Homo sapiens: one gene and its partners. The protein of the gene in region 3 purifies or fractionates together with the protein of the main gene of each other region. This does not show direct contact. Each region holds a gene or a part of one and is shown on either strand. Other genes may lie near its edges. The genes, in order: KANSL2, SETD1B, ZNF609 and WRAP73.

Region 1 (3,356 bases), on a different chromosome or scaffold from region 3:
TGACTAAATGATCTTCAAGGGTTAGTGAAGGATCAAAAAGCAAAGGTGAAGGAGGACACTGCATACCATCACCCACAACATCCAAGTCCTAGAAAAAAGAGAAAAGCCCATCAGCAATACCAAGGGAAACAGTAATAAAGTTGGCATGTTTTTCAGCAAACTTTAAAGCAATACTCTGCTGTCTCCCTCAACCCTAGCCTACCTTTAATAAAAAAAAAATTTTACAAGAGCGTCCAACAAATGAAACAAGATCCAAAAGCACTGAGAGCTTTTGCTGCCAAGTGTAAAACATAGACCAATACAGTAGATTAAAAAACAAAATTCTGGCCACCACACCTCTAATCCCAGCACTTTGGGAGGCCAAGGTAGGCATATCACTTGAGCCCAGGAGTTCAAGACCAGCCTGGGCAACATGGTGAAACCCCGTCTCTACAAAAACTGCAAAAATAAGCCAGGCGCGGTGGCACACACCTGTAGTCCCAGCTACTCTGGAGGTTGAGGTGGGAGGATCCCTCAAGCTTGGGACGCAGAGGCTGCAGTGAGCCGAGACTGCACCTCTGCACTCTAACCTGGGTGGCAGAGCCAGACCCTGTCTCAAAAAAAAAAAAAATTCTAGGAAAATTCACAGAAACACAAAGTAGAAACGGAGAATAGTAGGGAACAGGGGAAAGGGAAAGGAGAGAGTTACTGTTTAAAAAGTACAAAGTTTCTGTTTGGGTTGATGAAAAAGTTCTGGAACAGAAAATGGTGATAGCTGTACAACATGGTAAATGTTCATAACACCACTGACTTGTACACTTAAAAACGGCCAGGTGCAGTGGCTCATGCCTATGATAACAACACCTTGGGAAGCCGAAGTGGGAGGATCACTTGAGGCCAGGAATTCAAGACCAGCCTGGGTGACACAGCAAGACTCCATCTCTACCTACCCACCTACTTACACACATACATACATAGGTTAAAAGAGTAAAATTTTGTTATGTATGTTTTACTACAATTAAAAAAATATTTTTTAAAAAAGCATATTCTCTGAGGCTACCTGTAATGAACATGTAAGTTCACCAGTGATTAATTTAAATATGAACAATGCTACGTTAAAATTAAATATTGCTGGGTAATACAAGATTGCCTGATTAATATCCTAACAGCCACAAAGCAAGCAAACAAGCTCCAACAAGGGAAAGGGAGAAGGTAGGAAGAAAGGAAGGACAACAGAAAACTCACAGTTCCTCTGAATGGCTAGGAAATATTATTTTGGTTAAGTCCCTATCCCGACAGAGCAACAACCTGGTTTTTTTTGTTTTGTTTTTTTTTTTTTTGAGACAGAGTCTCGCTCTGTCGCCCAGGCTGGAGTGCAGTGACGTGATCTCGGCTCACTGCAACCTCCGCCTCCTGGGTTCAAGTGATTCTCCTGCCTCAGCCTCCCCAGTAGCTGGGACTATGGGCGTGTGCCACCACGCCCAGCTAATTTTTTGTATTTTTAGTAGAGACAGGGTTTCACCATGTTAGCCAGGATGGCCTTGATCTCCCGACCAGTGATTGGCCCACCTCAGCCTCCCAAAGTGCTGGGATTACAGGCATGAGCCACCACGCCCGGCCAACTCCCTGGTTCTTAAGCCTAACATAGTTTTGCTCTGTAAAAAAAAAAAAAAAAAAAATGACATTACATTCTAGACTATGTTTCTTCCAACTGAATTGGCAATTCGCACTGGAATACTGAATAGCCAACAGACCACAAGGAAGACATCACTCTTAGCTCCTGTTTGAAACCAACAGCTACAGCAAACCATTGGTCTTGATTCAGGGCCTAAGGCAATACAAACTCAAACAATATATCAAACTAACTTTCATGCCACTGCTTTTCAAGAGTCTGGTGCTAAATTCTCCTTCTTCCTAAGAATTAAAAATATCCAGGAGGTTTGTACCCCCCTATGTTTAATCCAGTTTATAGATGCTCCGTGTTTCTATTCATCTAGCTTCACGAGAAGCTTAGTTCTACGCTTTTAAATAAATCTAAGAATTTGCAATCCTTTCCCATTTGTTGGTGTGCTAATCACCAAAAATGAGAATCACAACATCTTCACATTAAAGAATATATATAATTTTAAAATCTACTTAAAGCTGCTCAGGCCGGGTGCAGTGGCTCACGCCTGCAATCCTAACACTTTGGGAGGCCAAGGTGGGCGGATCATGAGGTCAAGAGATTGAGACCATCCTGGCTAACATGGTGAAACCCAGTCTCCACAAAAAATTACCAGCCTGGCCAACATGGTGAAACCCCATCTCTACTAAAAATACAAAAATTAGCCAGGCGTCTTGGCACATACCTGTAGTCCCAGCTACTCAGGACACTGAGGCAGGAGAATTGCTTGAACCCAGGAGGCAGAGGTTGCAGTGAGCCGAGACTGCACCACTGCACTCCAGTCTGGGCAACAGAGCAAGACTCTGTCTCAAAAAAAAATAATAAAATAAAGCTGCTCAATTTAAGCAGAAACATAGGGCACAGGATACACTCAACCTACCATTCATTTTCAGGTGAGTTGGAAACTTCTGTACTACCCACAGAAACCAGTGTTCTCACACCATTAAGACTATAAATCTGTTTTCTCCCATTCTTTTACTATGTGCAATTTGTGTGTGTGTGTGTGCGTGCGTGTGTGTGAGACAGAGTTTCACTCTTGTTACCCAGGCTGGAGTGCAATGGCAAGATCTTGGCTCACTGCAACCTCCACCTCCTGGGTTCAAGCGATTCTCCTGCCTCAGCCTCCCCAGTAGCTGGGATTACAGGCGCGTGCCACCACATCCAGCTAATTGTTGTATTTTTGGTAGAGACGGAGTTTCACCATGTTGGCCAGGCTAGTCTAGAACTCCTGACCTCAGGTGATCTACCCGTCTCGGACTCCCAAAGTGCTGGGATTACAAGCGTCAGCCACCGCACCCGGCCCATGTGCAATTCTTACATAAACAATTAGCTTGGAATGGGCACGGTGGCTCACGCCTGTAATCCTAGCACTTTGGGAGGCCAAGGTGGGCGAAACACTTGAGGCCAGGAGCTTGAGACCAGCCTGGCCAACATGGTGAAACCCTGTCTCTACTAAAAATACAAAAATTAGCCAAGCACAGTGGGGCGCACCTGTAATCCCAACTACTCGGAAGGCTTAGACCGGAGAATCGCTTGAACCCAGGAGGCAGACAGTGCAGTGAGCCGAGATCACGCCAATGCACTCCAGCCTAGGTGACAGAGCGAGACTCTGTCAAAAATAATAATGACTAGCTTGGAATTATTTAAACACTGAATCAAAAGGCATCTAAATCTCAAGATAATAATGGAATGTGTATGTTTTCAGAAAAGGCTT
Region 2 (4,092 bases), on a different chromosome or scaffold from region 3:
TGCCCCGGGGAAAGAGGGACTCCGGGAGGGCCAGGCAGCCACGGCCTCCCTGCTCACCTTCATCCGAGTCCCCTTCGTCCTTCTCACTCGCCTCTGACAGGGCTGTGTCCTCGTCATCGTTCTCAGACTCGTCCCGGTCATCACTGTCGTCATCGTCGTCATCCTGGGGGAGAAGGAAGAGTGGGGACAGGTGAGCCGAAGGGTCTGGCCCTCGTCGCCTGGCCCGGCCCCCTGAGGCTTCCTGGCCTGCTAGGCACCTTATCTGATGTGGATGAGGTTGAGGAGGAGGAGAGCTGGCTCCTGGGGACTTCCTCCTCCTCCTCCTCCTCCGCCTCCTCTTCCTCCTCGGTGCTCTCCTGTTCCTCCTCCTTGTCGGAGGCCGAGGACGAGGGTGAGGTGGTTGAGGACCCCGAGGATGATGACGCGGATGAGGACGAGGACGCCGACAATGACTCCTTCTCGTCCTCCTCCCCACCACTGTCCAGCTCCAGAGGCCGCGCCGGCCGCCGCCGCACACCCACGCCCTTGGGGTCCCGCTTGGCGAGCTCACAGGGGGTGTCTGCCATATCCCGGTCTCGCTCTCGCTCGGACTCTGCAGGAAGGGAGGGAGTCAGAGCTGGGCTGGGGGGATGCGGAAGAAGGGGACCCCAGCACCCAGAGCACGAACCTTCATCTTCCTCATCCACAGAGGTCGAGGGCCGCAGCCGCTTCTGGTCGCCAGATGAGGTGGTGTCTGGTGGCTCCTTCCTCTTGACCTTGAAGGAGGGCAGGCGAATGGCCCCACGCAGCCCAATGCCCAGGCCCAGGCCCTCGTAGCCCAGGCCCTCGCCCTTGCCCCATGACTCCAGCAGGCACGAGGCGATGCGGTCCTTGGGCTTCGGCCTGTCCTCGTCCTTGTGCTCGCCCGACTTCACCGGGGTCAGCGAGGCCTGGGGTGGAGACAGGAGGGGACCGTCACCGCTTCTGGCACCACCAACCCTTGCAGGGAGCCCTCCCCAGGCTACCTGCCTTCCACTCGGCAGTAACAGCCACCACAGGTAACTGCATCCTCATTCCCTACACACCTGGCCACACTATGCCGTTACCCACGAGGCTCTAGAGCACCGCTCTGCCTCATAGATCTCAATGTCCTCCCCTGTAGAATAGGACTACTGTACCTGCCTTCCTTACAACAGTGGCCTTTGCACTTTGCAGACAATCCAAAAACTACACCATAGGGACACATCTGTGCAACACCACCTTCACAAGGTAAGATTTACACTATCCCATTTTCTCTTCTCTTCCCATGCATTAAAAACAGGACCTACTGGCTTTATTTCACTGCTCACTAAGGGGTTGCCCCTGTGGTTCTGAAATGCTCTGCCTTCAAAGGGATGCTGTGAGAATTAACAAAACGAGCCACATGAAGAGCTTTGCAAGGTGCAGGGCACATGAGGCCTGGTGGCTCTTTTTATTCAAATTGTGAATGGAATAGCTATTAGCTGTTACTGTAGGGTCAGTATAATTTGGCTGAACCATAAAGAGCTGTGTATCAGTGATTTCAGACGGTTCATTCTAATTTTACTGCCCAGTTAAACGGATGACAAACAGGCTCTGACAAGTGCTGCTTACCTCTGTGGCAGAAAGCAAGCATTTCCCAAAGCAGGCTCCAGGGGACACTCAAACTCATAACCACGGTCGAGGGAGGGGAGCAGGGGGGAATGGGGTGGAGGGGAGGGATTAAGGGGAGTTTAAAGTATTCAAGAAAAAGTTCTCTCTTATGGAGAAAATAAGTAATTTTAGATTACCTGTAAGATTGCAAACAGGCAAATAATATGTTAAAAAGGAAAAAAGAGACCAGGCATAGTGGCTCACATCTGTAATCCCAGCACTTTGGTAGGCTGAAGCAGGTGGATCACTTGAGGTCAGGAGTTCGAGACCAGCCTGGCCAACAAGGTGAAACCCCATCTCTACTAAAAATACAAAAATCAGCCAGGCATGGTAGTGGGTGCCTATAGTCCCAGCTACTTAGGACACTGAGGCAGGAGAATCGCTTGAACCCAGGAGGTGGAGGCTGCAGAGGGCTGAGATCACGCCATTGCACTCCAGCCAGGGTGACAGAGTGAGACTCCATCTCCGAAAAAAAAAAAAAAAAAAAAGAAAGAAAAGAAAATAGTAAGTAGGCCAGGAGCGGTGGCTGACGCATATAATCCCAGCCCAAAAGGCAGAGGATCACTTGAGCCTAGGAGTTCAAGACCAGCCTGGGCAACGTGGTGAAACTCTGTCTTTACAGAAAAACACACAAATTAGCTGGGTGTGGTGGTACATGCCTGTAGTCCCAGCTACTTGGAGGCTGAGGTGAGAGGATCCCTTGAGCACAGGGAGGTTGAGGGTGCAGTGAGCTATGATTGCGCCACTACACTCCAGCCTGGACGATACAGCGAGACCCTGTCTCAAAAAAACAAAAAAAGGAAAAAAGTGGTCCAAGACAGGGCTCCGTGTAAAAGGCGGCATGAGGGGAGGTGAGGGGAGTCAAGTTCAAAGGGAGTCGCAGCTGTGAGCTGTCTGCAATGGGCGGGGGGGGCAGTCTGCACCAGCTATCCTGTGTACTACCACTAGGCACCTGTGGCTCCCGAGCACTTGAAATGTGGCATGTACAAAGGAGGAGTTTTAATTTTACTCTGTTTTAATTCATTTAAGTTAATTTGCACATTTATTTTTAGAGATGGGCTCTTGCTATACTGCTCAGGCTGATCTTGAACTCCTAGGCTCAAGCAATCCTCCCACCTCAGCCTCCCAAAGTGCTGGGATTAAAGGTGTACGCCACCATGCCTGGCCACTCATTTAAATTCAAAGAGCCGTGTGCATCTAGTGGCTGCTGAAGTGGAGCACAGTTTGCGGAACTTTGAAAGTGGCCACATGAAATGGAGCTCCCATAGTGGGGTCCACGGCAGCGTTTCCAGTTAACAGTCTCAGGGAAAGAGGAGGTGCCCGGCTGGGGACCTGCCCCCCTCCACAGCCACCCTGCAGAGCCCTGCACCCACCCACCCACCTTGGCCATCCGCTCCTTCTTGTCCCACCACTCGTCAAAGGCCCGGAAAGCCACCACTTCCACCATCTTGCGGTTCAGGTCACGCTTCATGATGGCCTTGAGTTCTTTGAGGACCACCAGCAGGACGCCATCCACCGTGGCTTTGTGTGGGTCCTCCTGGCGTGGCATGTAGCCTGGTGGAGGCACTGACGGGTCAAACTTGGGCAGTGGTGGCCAGTGCTGCCCGCGGCCTGGGCCGGAGTTGCTCAGGGAGAAGGGGCCCCGGTAGGGCGGCAGGTTGACAAACTGGAGCCCAGCTGAGGCAGCGGCGGCCGCAGCGGCCATGAAGGGCGGGTAGGGGCAGGCGCCCTGGCCCGTCATCAGCCGGCTGAGCACCTGCGTTTGCATCTGGAAGGACATGGGCATGCCGCCCCACTGGCCACCCAGCACGTGGCTCATGTCCACCTGCATCACAGGGAACAGGCCCGGCGGAAAGGGGGGCAGTGGTGGCAGGATGGGTGGGGGCGGGACTCCAGGCGGCGCTGGCAAGGGTGGTGGGGGCACTGTCACAGCAGGGTGGGCTGGAGGGGGTGGGGGCGGCGGTGGGGGCAGCGGTGGGGGCATGGGGAAGCCAGGCTGCGGTGGGGGTGGTGGTGGTGGGGGGGGCAGCGGGGGGAAGCCAGGTGGCGGGGGCAGCGGCAGGGTTGGGGCTAGCACAGAAGGGGCTGCCACGGCTGCCGCTCCTGGGGTCACCACCATGGGCTTGGGGCAGTCAGCGCTGGTGATGGGGGCCGAGGGCATCTCGTCATCCGAGATCTCCATGTCCTCGCCTGAGGACTGCTGGCCCTGCAGAGAGAGCAGGGAGAGACAGTGAGGTGAGTCTGGAAGGCCAAGGGGCTCTCGGAGTCCCCTCTGCAAGACTAGCAATCAGTGGCACTCCCAGCTGTGTGACCCAGTGCAAGCCATTCAGCCTCTCCAAGCCTCAGCGTCTTCATTTGCAAAATGGGCATCATAGTCCCTGCCTCATGGAGTTACCACTAGAATTCATTCATTCATTCCAATTCAACAAACATTTGCTCAGT
Region 3 (4,865 bases):
ACCCAGGCTGGAGTACAGCGGTGCAATCACAGCTCACTGCAGCCTCAACCTCCTGGGCTCAACGAGATCTTTCTACCTCAGCCTCCCAAGAAGCTGGGACCACAGGCGTATGCCACTACACCCAGCTAACATTTTTTATATTTTTTGTTGAGATGGGGTTTTGCCATGTTGCCCAAGCTGGTCTCGAACTCCTGAACTCAAGCGATCTTCCCACCTCAGCCTCCTGAGTAGCTGGGACCACTGGCATGTGCCACTATGCCCAGCTAGCTGTATTTTTTTAAATTTTTGTAGAGATGAGTTCTCACTATGTTGCCCAGGCCACTCTCAAACTCCTAGGCTCAAGTGATCCTCCTGCCTCAGCCTCCCAAAGTGCTGGGATTACAGGTGTGAGCACCATGCCTGGTCCCAAATAATTTTTTACACAACTAATAGTACATAAATATTATTTGAGCACTTCTATCAGATATGTACAATAGGATTCCTTCTAGTTTGTTCTCATCCTTCTCTCACTAATAATCCCTAAGACCCATACATTTTTTCAAAAATGTTTATTTCTTTGGCAAATTTCTTAATACAGAGGCAGATATAGACTTTTGCACAATGAGCAACTCATGTCCTTTCATTAGAGTTAAAATAAATATTGAAAGGTTTGTTCCCACAGCCCTTGCCCAGATAGGCAAATTCTGTGGCTTTTTTGTTGTGCTATTATTATTGACCAGGAAGCCACCATTAAAAAGGTACTTGGTTCTTGACTTTTTTATTTTTTATTTTTAAAGAAACAGGGTCTTGCTTTGTTGCCCAGGCTGGTCTTAAACTCCTGGGCTCCAGCCATCCTCTGGCTTCATTCTCCCAAAGTGCCAAGATTACAAGCATGAGCCACCACACCTGGGCTTGACTCCCCATCTTAACACTGCACAGGTTTTTAGTGGTATTCGGAAACAAACAAAAATCACTGCATGAGTGTTCCATTCATATAAAAGAATTAAATATGATGATTCAACTAAGAGTAGAACCTTCCCTTGAAGTCTTCTTCCTTAAGGGTCTGAAACAAACATCGTAGTTGAGTCTACCAGACACTATTCCTTCACAACTTAGTACAGGCTAGCCAAAGAGGCAGGCACAACATGGCTGGCATCCCTTATTCTTCTGAAAAATGTGTGCCAATGAGCTCTGCATTGTTCCTCACTCAAAAAGAAGAGCCTTTCTCTCTGGCCTCCTCCAATGGCAAGCCCCAGTCTGGAAAAGGAAGAAAATGGCACTGAGGAGCCTGGGAGATGGAGCATATCCAAAGCTCTCAGACAAGACTTGAACCTATGACCTTCACTGTGTACACAATAGGCGGGTGAGAGGGACCGGTTTATCTCTGCTGCAGCAGTTCTCAGCCCTGGGGTAGCGCTCCCGATAAAATGACACGACTATTGTGTGTGGCAGCAGAACAGTCATCTCCTCACAACAGCCTAAACCAGCACTCCCTCCCCCAAGACAAAGCAGCAGGGGTGAAATTAACTCAAGGCTGCAGAGCAAAGCCTAATACAGAAAAGGGAGGCCTGTAGGGGCTTGGGGACTCTCCTCAACCCCTTAGGCTCTGGACACATGGCTGGAAACAGACAGGCTTTCTTCCCTATCTTTCTCACTCTCATTTAGGTAGGGAGCTGTTTCTTAGAGAATTTAATCATCCGTGATTTGTTCAGAAATATTCCCCCTGAAGGGCTCTGATCTCTCCACCCTGTGTGAGCCTAATTCCTCGAAGCTGAAATGACTGTTTGCTGCTGCCTGTTTCACAAACACACATTAATTGGTCAGATGTGTCTCCTCCTCCTCAACCCCAGAGGGAGGAAGGAGAATCTGAGCAAAGCACAGAGATGATCCAACCGTAATTACACATAAAGGGAAAAGAGGGCAGCATGGGTTTTCCAAACAGGATAGGGTCACAAACCCTCCCGGGGGTACAAGGATAGCAGTTGAGGTCCAGGCCCAGGGATCCCTCCATCTTGAAGAAAAGGACAGGAGTAAATGTGACCTGAAGACTGTTAGGGGCACACACCCACAACCTACTTACTGCAGGATCCCAGCCACCTTGCTCCCCACTCCTAGGTCACGCACACGTCCTGCTTCCGACCCTATGCTCTGAACAACCACCACCGCCCCCGCCCCCCCTCCCCCGCCAACTCCCTGACTGGCCCCAGTCGCCCCGAGCGCCCTCAACATACCCAGACTCGCCTCAGAAACTCTCTGGCCTGCTCCCATAACCTAGCCAGACCCTAATCCCCTCCCGGGCACCCCTACCCTCAGCCTGAACCGGCCGTGGCCACGCTTTGAACTTCACCCCGCGCCCCTCGACGCCCCCTCCCCCACCCACGCAACGACCCCCCCTACACACCTTCCCCTCGCTCCGCCCCAGCCCCCCCAACCCCCACTTCCTCCGTCAGGCAGCGCCGCCGCCCCCGGCCCCCATCAGATCCCCTCAGCCCCGCGCCCCATCGGTGCCGCCGCCTCTTTCCTCCCCCAGTCCCGGCTCCACACAAAGCTCCGGACTCACCGCGCGGCCGGTCCCGGGAGCCGCCACCTCCGCCCGCCCGGGGCCCCGGGCCGTAGAGCCGCCGCTGCTACGGGGCCCAGGCCGCCATCCGTTCCCGCGGCCCCTCCCCCCCACCCCACCCCGGCTCCGGCTCCGGCTCCGGCTCTGGCTCTCTGCCCCCTCCCCGCGCCTCTCCGCCCCGCCCGGCCGGTGCCGCTGTGTCCGGGGCCGCGGGTCCCTCAGCCGCCGCCACCGCCGCCGCCGCCGCGATCCGGGACAACCAGAGTCACCCGGAAGACGCGGACACTGGACTGCCAGGCCCTCGGATCCGGATTCCGCGCTTGTGTGGAGTCTGGAGCCGGTGAGCGCAGGGGAAACCCGGAACCTGGATGAAGGAGCGAAATCCTGGGTCTCGGAATGCGCGCTCACCCGGAGCCCAGATTAGGGAGTCTTAGCTCAGGGAATGCTGGAAAACCCGGCGTGCCGGTTAGAACCAAGATAAACTCAAAGAAACCTGGATTAGAGAGCTCGAACCTAACGCTGTCCCCTCGTGGGCAGTAGAACTCTCGCTGGATCAGACTTCCTCATAGAGAGGTCTCTGGGGGGAGTATTGCACCTTATAACACAGAAGACACCTCTTCTGTAGTTGTCCTTCAACCACAGAGAGGAAAGGGCCGTAGGGGATCTGAACATGGGCATCCACAAAGAACAGAAGAGCAATCACAGCTCCTGATGGTTTCATCCATTTTACCCCTTAGTTCAGCAAAGTACCAACCTCCTAATTTTTTATCCTTTGTTCTCCAGCTTTCTCTTTTAGGATTACCACTTGCTTTTCTCCCCAAAGCACCCATTTCTAATCCCTCTATATATCCCTTTTCCCCTCACCATCCTCTATCACTAAATCTTGTTGCCTTTTATTATCTAAAAACCTTATTCTGTCCTTCTCCAACCCACCATTCTAAGGATTGTAGCTTTTATTTTTCCTTATCTGCTATTCATCTCTGATTGCCCAGCATACTATCTAGTGCACAGTAGGCATTCAGTCCATGTTTAAGTGAGCCCTCCCACCCAGCTTTCACTTGTGAAACATCTATTCATGACGACCTCCTAAGACTTCCATCTCATTCCATAGCAAACAAATTTACCTTAATTCTCAAGGCCTCCCACATCCTAGCCCCTATTATGTCCTTCCTGTGTCCTTGACCATTTTATTTTGCTTTGCATTTATCTTACCTTTTTTCCCTTATCCTGGGGCATCCTTCAACAGTGCCACTCAAGATAGCATGTGACTTGGAGATAAAGTGAGGTCATAAAAAGGTGGGGGGAGGGGTTGATAGCTAAAGATAAAAGTAAACCTTTCTGGTCTAGGAAAAATAATCTCTCTTTGGTCCACCAATAGTCATGTTGTTAGACAGTACAGGGGCAGAACTGATCCCAGGTGACAGCGAACTTCCAATGTATACTAGACAAAGTTACAAGTGAGGATTCAGCTACTTAGCAGGTGGAGACAGAGAAGGGTTTAGTGTTTTAGACTTAGGCATGATTTAATTAAGGATTAAACATTCCAGTAGTCATCTCCCACTGAAGGAGCATGACTCTGCCATTGGAGAGAACTAGACTGCAAAAATAGGGAACAAAGGAAGGTAAACATTCCTGCAGTGAACTCCAAGTTTCAGCCAGAGAAAGTTCTCAAGCCTCGAAGAACCACTAAAAATTTTCAAGTGATCAGATGTCCCACATAGTAAACAAACCTTAAGTTTTGATTTACTGTTCCTCTAGACCAAGGGTTGGCAAACTGCATCTCACAGGTCAAATCAGGCTCACCACCTGTTTTAACATGTCCCATGAGCTAGAATGATTTTTACATTTTTAAACAGTTAAATAATCAAAATACTATTTCATGATGTGAAAATGATATGAAATTCAAATTTCAGGCCAGGTGCGGTGGCTCACGCCTGTAATCTCAGCACTTTGGGAGGCTGAGGCGGGCGGATCACGTGAGGTCGGGAATTCGAGACCAGGCTGACCAACATGGAGAAACCCCGTAAAAATACAAAAGTAGCCGGGCGTGGTGGTACATGCTTGTAATCCCAGCTACTTGAGAGGCTGAGGCAGGAGAATCGCTTGAACCCGGGAGGCGGAGGTTGCAATGAGCCGAAATCTTGCCACTGCACTCCAGCCTGGGCAACAAGAATGAAACTGTCTTAAAATACAAACAAAAAAATAGTTTTATTGGCTCTAGCCAAGCTCATTCATTTACATTATCATCTATAGATGCATTTTTACTACAACAGCAGAGTTGAACAGTTGAAACAAGGACTGCATGGCCTGTGTAAAGCCTAAAATA
Region 4 (4,092 bases), on a different chromosome or scaffold from region 3:
TCAGCGGGGCCGCTGGGTCCCCTTCCGAAGGCGCGACCCCATGTCCGGGGCTCAGCGGGGCCGCTGGGTCCCCTTCCGAAGGCGCGACCCCATGTCCGGGGCTCAGCGGGGCCGCTGGGTCCCCTTCCGAAGGCGCGACCCCATGTCCGGGGCTCAGCGGGGCCGCTGGGTCCCCTTCCGAAGGCGCGACCCCATGTCCGGGGCTCAGCGGGGCCGCTGGGTCCCCTTCCGAAGGCGCGACCCCATTTCGGGGGTTAGTGGGGCCGCTGAGTCCACTTGCGAAGGCGCCACCCCACGTGAGGGTGCTGTGGAGCATGGGAGACGTCCCTGCCTCTTGCATTTTAACGTGAAAAGGCAAGCTTGCGCCCATTAGACGAGGTTCAGTGAGTCATCAAAAGCGGCTCACCCCTAGGCCTGCAGCGGAACACTGCCGCGCTTTCAGAGCCCTTCTCTTCCTCGTAGCAATGCCCTCCCCACCTGAGGGCACCTTTGCCCCACGTCTTGCGTGAATCACATCCTCACTGTTCTTGAGTCTCACTGTACAGATGTGTCTAAACACCACATTGCTTGCTGTGCAGTGTAAAGTTGATTTATAGGGGCTTGTACTTTGCAGTCTCTGCTGTTGCTGTTCCCCGTCACTGCTTTTAGACTCCTCCGTGTTGACAGGCATCGCTGGGCCTTCCCTTCCTCGTGAGGAACGCCATTCAGTCCTCGCCTGCTGGACGTGTGCGTCACCACGGACGGTGTGGCTGTGAACGTGTTGTCCCCGTCTCCTGGGCACATACCCGGAGAGCCTCTCTAGGAGAGCCTTGCTTGGCCGTAGCAGACGGAGGGGTTTCATTTGCCAAGGCTTTTGTGGCAGGATTACAATGATTCCATCCAGGCGACTAAATGATACTGCAGTTTGGATTTAGTTTGCGTTTCCCTAATTCTCGGTGAGGTTGAGTGCTTTCCTATCTTGTTTCATTACACACAGACGCTCACACATGCTCCATTTAAATGAAGCAGGTTCACGTAGTGGGGCACACTGTGGGGTCTGAATCCATTTCTACCTTTTCCCAGCAGCATTTTTTTTTTTTTTTTTTTGAGATGGAGTTTCGCTCTTGTCCCCCAGGCTGTAGTGCAATGGTGTGATCCAAGCTCACCGCAACCTACGCCTCCCAGGTTCAAGCGATTTTCCTGCCTCAGCCTCCCGAGTAGCTGGGATTACAGGCATGCGCCACCACGCCTGGCTAATTTTGTATTTTTAGTAGAGATGGGGTTTCTCATGTTGGTCAGGCTGGTCTCAAACTCTCGACCTCAGTTGATCTGCCTGCCTCGGCCTCCCAAAGTGCTGGGATTACAGGTGTGAGCCACCGTGCCCAGCTCCCAGCAGCATTTATTTAGAAGGCTATCTTCACCAGCTATAGCAGGAGCTCAGTTCCATTATACCTGCAGGATCACTTCTGGTTTCCATTCCAGTCCACTGTTGGTCCACCTATGTGCCAGCACCACACTGTCTACATTATTGAGGTTCTATGGTGTGTTTGAATATCTGATGGGACTGATTCCTCTTCATTGCTCTTGTAGTCTGTCAGATTTTTTAAAAACAATTTTTTTGTAGAGTTGGGGTCTCCCTTTGTTTCCCAGGCTGGTCTCGAGCTCCTAAACTCACGCAATCCTTCCTTCCCAGCCTCCTGTATAGCTGGCATTACAGGTGCACAACAGTGCGCCCGGCTCTGCCAGATTTTTAAATGTATTTTTGAGACTTTGTTGTTAGCTGCATACAAACTTTTAACTGTTTGTAAACAGATTTCCTAGTGAAGCGGTTCCCATGATTCCGCGGTGGCACAGGCCTTTTGTTGTAAAGTATTCCTCTTTATGTCTCACGGTTCTTTTTGTTTCAGAGTCTGATTTATCCCGTACGAATGCGGCAGTGCCACCTTTCTCTTGGTTAGGATTTTCTTGATATGTCTTTTTCTATCCTTTTACCTTCTACATTTCTGCATCCTTAAACTTGAGTGTGTATGTTGTAAATAGTCTATAGTTAGCTTTAAAAATATATCCAGACTGCAGACTTTTTCTTATATCTGAATAAAGGCAATTAAAACAATTTATAAGCAAGAGAATTCACCCACTTTAAGAGCACAGTTGAGTGAGTCACTTTGCACGTCATTGCCGCCACAATCAGGACCAAGACTGTTCGCCCGTGGCATGGGGCTCCTCGTGCCCCTTGTGCTCAGTCCGTCTCCCACCTGTGTCCGGCAGCCGGTGCCTGCTGCGGGGCGAGCAGCACTGCCTACTCGGAATCCCATCTGCACAGAGCCATGGTGCGTGGAGCTGTGCGTCTGCTTCCTTTTCCCTGGCATCTTGCTGGTTTTGAGTGTGCTGGGTTGTGGGGTGGATCAGTGGCCCGTTCCTCCATCTTGAGAGTGCTGGGTCATGGTGTGGAGAGAGTGCTGGGTCGTGGCATGGATCAGTGGCCTGTTCCTCCCGTCTTGAGTGTACTGGGTCATGGCTTGGATCCGTGGCCCATTCCTCTCACCCTGAGCATGCTGAGTTGTGGTGTGGATCGGTGGCCCGTTCCTTCCGTCTTCAGCACACTGGGTCGTAGCGTGGATCAGCGGCCCCTTCCTTCCCTCCTGAGTGCTCTGGGTCATGTGGATCCCTCTGGTCCTTTCTTCCTGCTGCTGAGTGCTGTGGAGCCCATCCCACGGGTCTCCTCCGCTGGCTTCTCCAGTGGTCAGTGGAAGGTAACAGCGCTGATGAAGGTGTATATTTAACTACCTTTTTTTCTTATTGGGTTTTTAAAAGTTGCAAAGTTATCTTTTAAAGGTTTTTGTTTCTTTGTTTTTGTGAGATGAAGGTAAAAATCAGGCTTAAAGTGCTCCCTGTGTTTCCTAAGATGTGCCTGAGTGGGGAGCCTCGGCCAGGCGCACCCCACAGGGATGCAGGGCCACAGGTGGGAGATGTGCTTTTCTCCTGTGACTCTGCAGTAGGCTCTGGAGGGCAGGTCTCTGCCCTGGGTGGCACATGGACTCTCCTGATGCTGAGAGGCTCGGGCGCTGCACCCCGCCCTGCTGATGCTGAGATGCTTGGGTGCTCCACCCCGCCCTGCTGATGCTGAGATGCTCCGTTGCTGCACCCTGCCCTGCTGATGCTGAGATGCTCGGGCGCTCCACCCTGCCCTGCTGATGCTCAGAGCCTCGGGCGCTCCACCCCGCCCTGCTGACGCTCAGAGCCTGGGGCGTTCCACCCTGCCCTGCTGATGCTCAGAGCCTCGGGCGCTGCACCCCGCCCTGCTGATGCTCAGAGCCTCGGGCGCTGCACCCCGCCCTGCTGATGCTCAGAGCCTCGGGTGTTCCACCCTGCCCTGCTGATGCTCAGAGCCTCGGGCGCTCCACCCCGCCCTGCTGATGCTGAGATGCTCGGGCGCTCCACCCCGCCCTGCTGATGCTCAGAGCCTCAGGCGCTGCACCCACCCTGCTGAGTCTGAGAGGCTTGGGCAAGGTTTCAGCCTCAGACACGCTGGTGGGAAGTAGCACGCTTCCTCGCTCAGGCCCCAGCGCCCTCCTTGGCCTCAGCTTGTGGAGCTGTTAGAGGAGCAAGTGCTCTGTGCAGCTGGAGTTCCGAGGCATGGTCCCCAGAACGGCCAGTGTGTTTCGGGTTCAGCATCAGCACAGGAGCCCTTCCGTGCTGCCACGTGACCCCTGGAGCTCGTTGATCCACTACCTGTGTGTTCAGGACTTCTCTCCTGAACGCTGTATATGTTGTTTGGAGAAACAATTACAGACATCAGATTTTCTTTTCTGTTGTAAGAAGAGATGATGCGTAGACATTTAAATTAAATCATTTGTTAATATCCTATACTGACAACCTGGCAGCGTTTGCAGGAGTGACACTGTGGACATGCTGTGCCCCACACGCTGCGGCCCCACTTACGCTGCTGGAGACGGTCCCCCACCCCGGGCCTCATCCTCAGCGAGGACCCCTGCCTGACACACACGGAGCTGGCAGTCAGCACCCCACCCCGCATGGAGCTGCGCAGCCCTGTGTCCCCACACACGGAGCTGGCAGTCAGCACCCCACCCCACATGGAGCTGCGCAGCCCTG

The links.
Region 1: the proteins of ZNF609 (region 3) and KANSL2 purify together in Homo sapiens (affinity purification with mass spectrometry, with the first as the bait; one large-scale study listed by BioGRID). This does not show direct contact.
Region 2: the proteins of ZNF609 (region 3) and SETD1B purify together in Homo sapiens (affinity purification with mass spectrometry, with the first as the bait; one large-scale study listed by BioGRID). This does not show direct contact.
Region 4: the proteins of ZNF609 (region 3) and WRAP73 purify together in Homo sapiens (co-immunoprecipitation; one large-scale study listed by IntAct). This does not show direct contact.

What each region holds. Positions count from the first base shown.
Region 1 is NC_000012.12:48,654,973-48,658,328, forward strand, and holds part of KANSL2 (KAT8 regulatory NSL complex subunit 2), read right to left. Parts: intron 1,811-3,356; exon of another isoform or gene 1,676-1,810; intron 89-1,675; coding exon 1-88. UniProt on the Homo sapiens protein: Non-catalytic component of the NSL histone acetyltransferase complex, a multiprotein complex that mediates histone H4 acetylation at 'Lys-5'- and 'Lys-8' (H4K5ac and H4K8ac) at transcription start sites and promotes transcription initiation.
Region 2 is NC_000012.12:121,813,870-121,817,961, reverse strand, and holds part of SETD1B (histone-lysine N-methyltransferase SETD1B), read right to left. Parts: intron 3,857-4,092; coding exon 3,032-3,856; intron 930-3,031; coding exon 668-929; intron 593-667; coding exon 258-592; intron 164-257; coding exon 58-163; intron 1-57. UniProt on the Homo sapiens protein: Histone methyltransferase that catalyzes methyl group transfer from S-adenosyl-L-methionine to the epsilon-amino group of 'Lys-4' of histone H3 (H3K4) via a non-processive mechanism.
Region 3 is NC_000015.10:64,458,513-64,463,377, reverse strand, and holds the start of ZNF609 (zinc finger protein 609), read right to left. Parts: upstream 2,801-4,865; 5' UTR 2,540-2,800; intron 2,355-2,539; exon of another isoform or gene 2,211-2,354; intron 1-2,210. UniProt on the Homo sapiens protein: Transcription factor, which activates RAG1, and possibly RAG2, transcription. Through the regulation of RAG1/2 expression, may regulate thymocyte maturation.
Region 4 is NC_000001.11:3,639,732-3,643,823, reverse strand, and holds part of WRAP73 (WD repeat-containing protein WRAP73), read left to right. Parts: intron 1-4,092.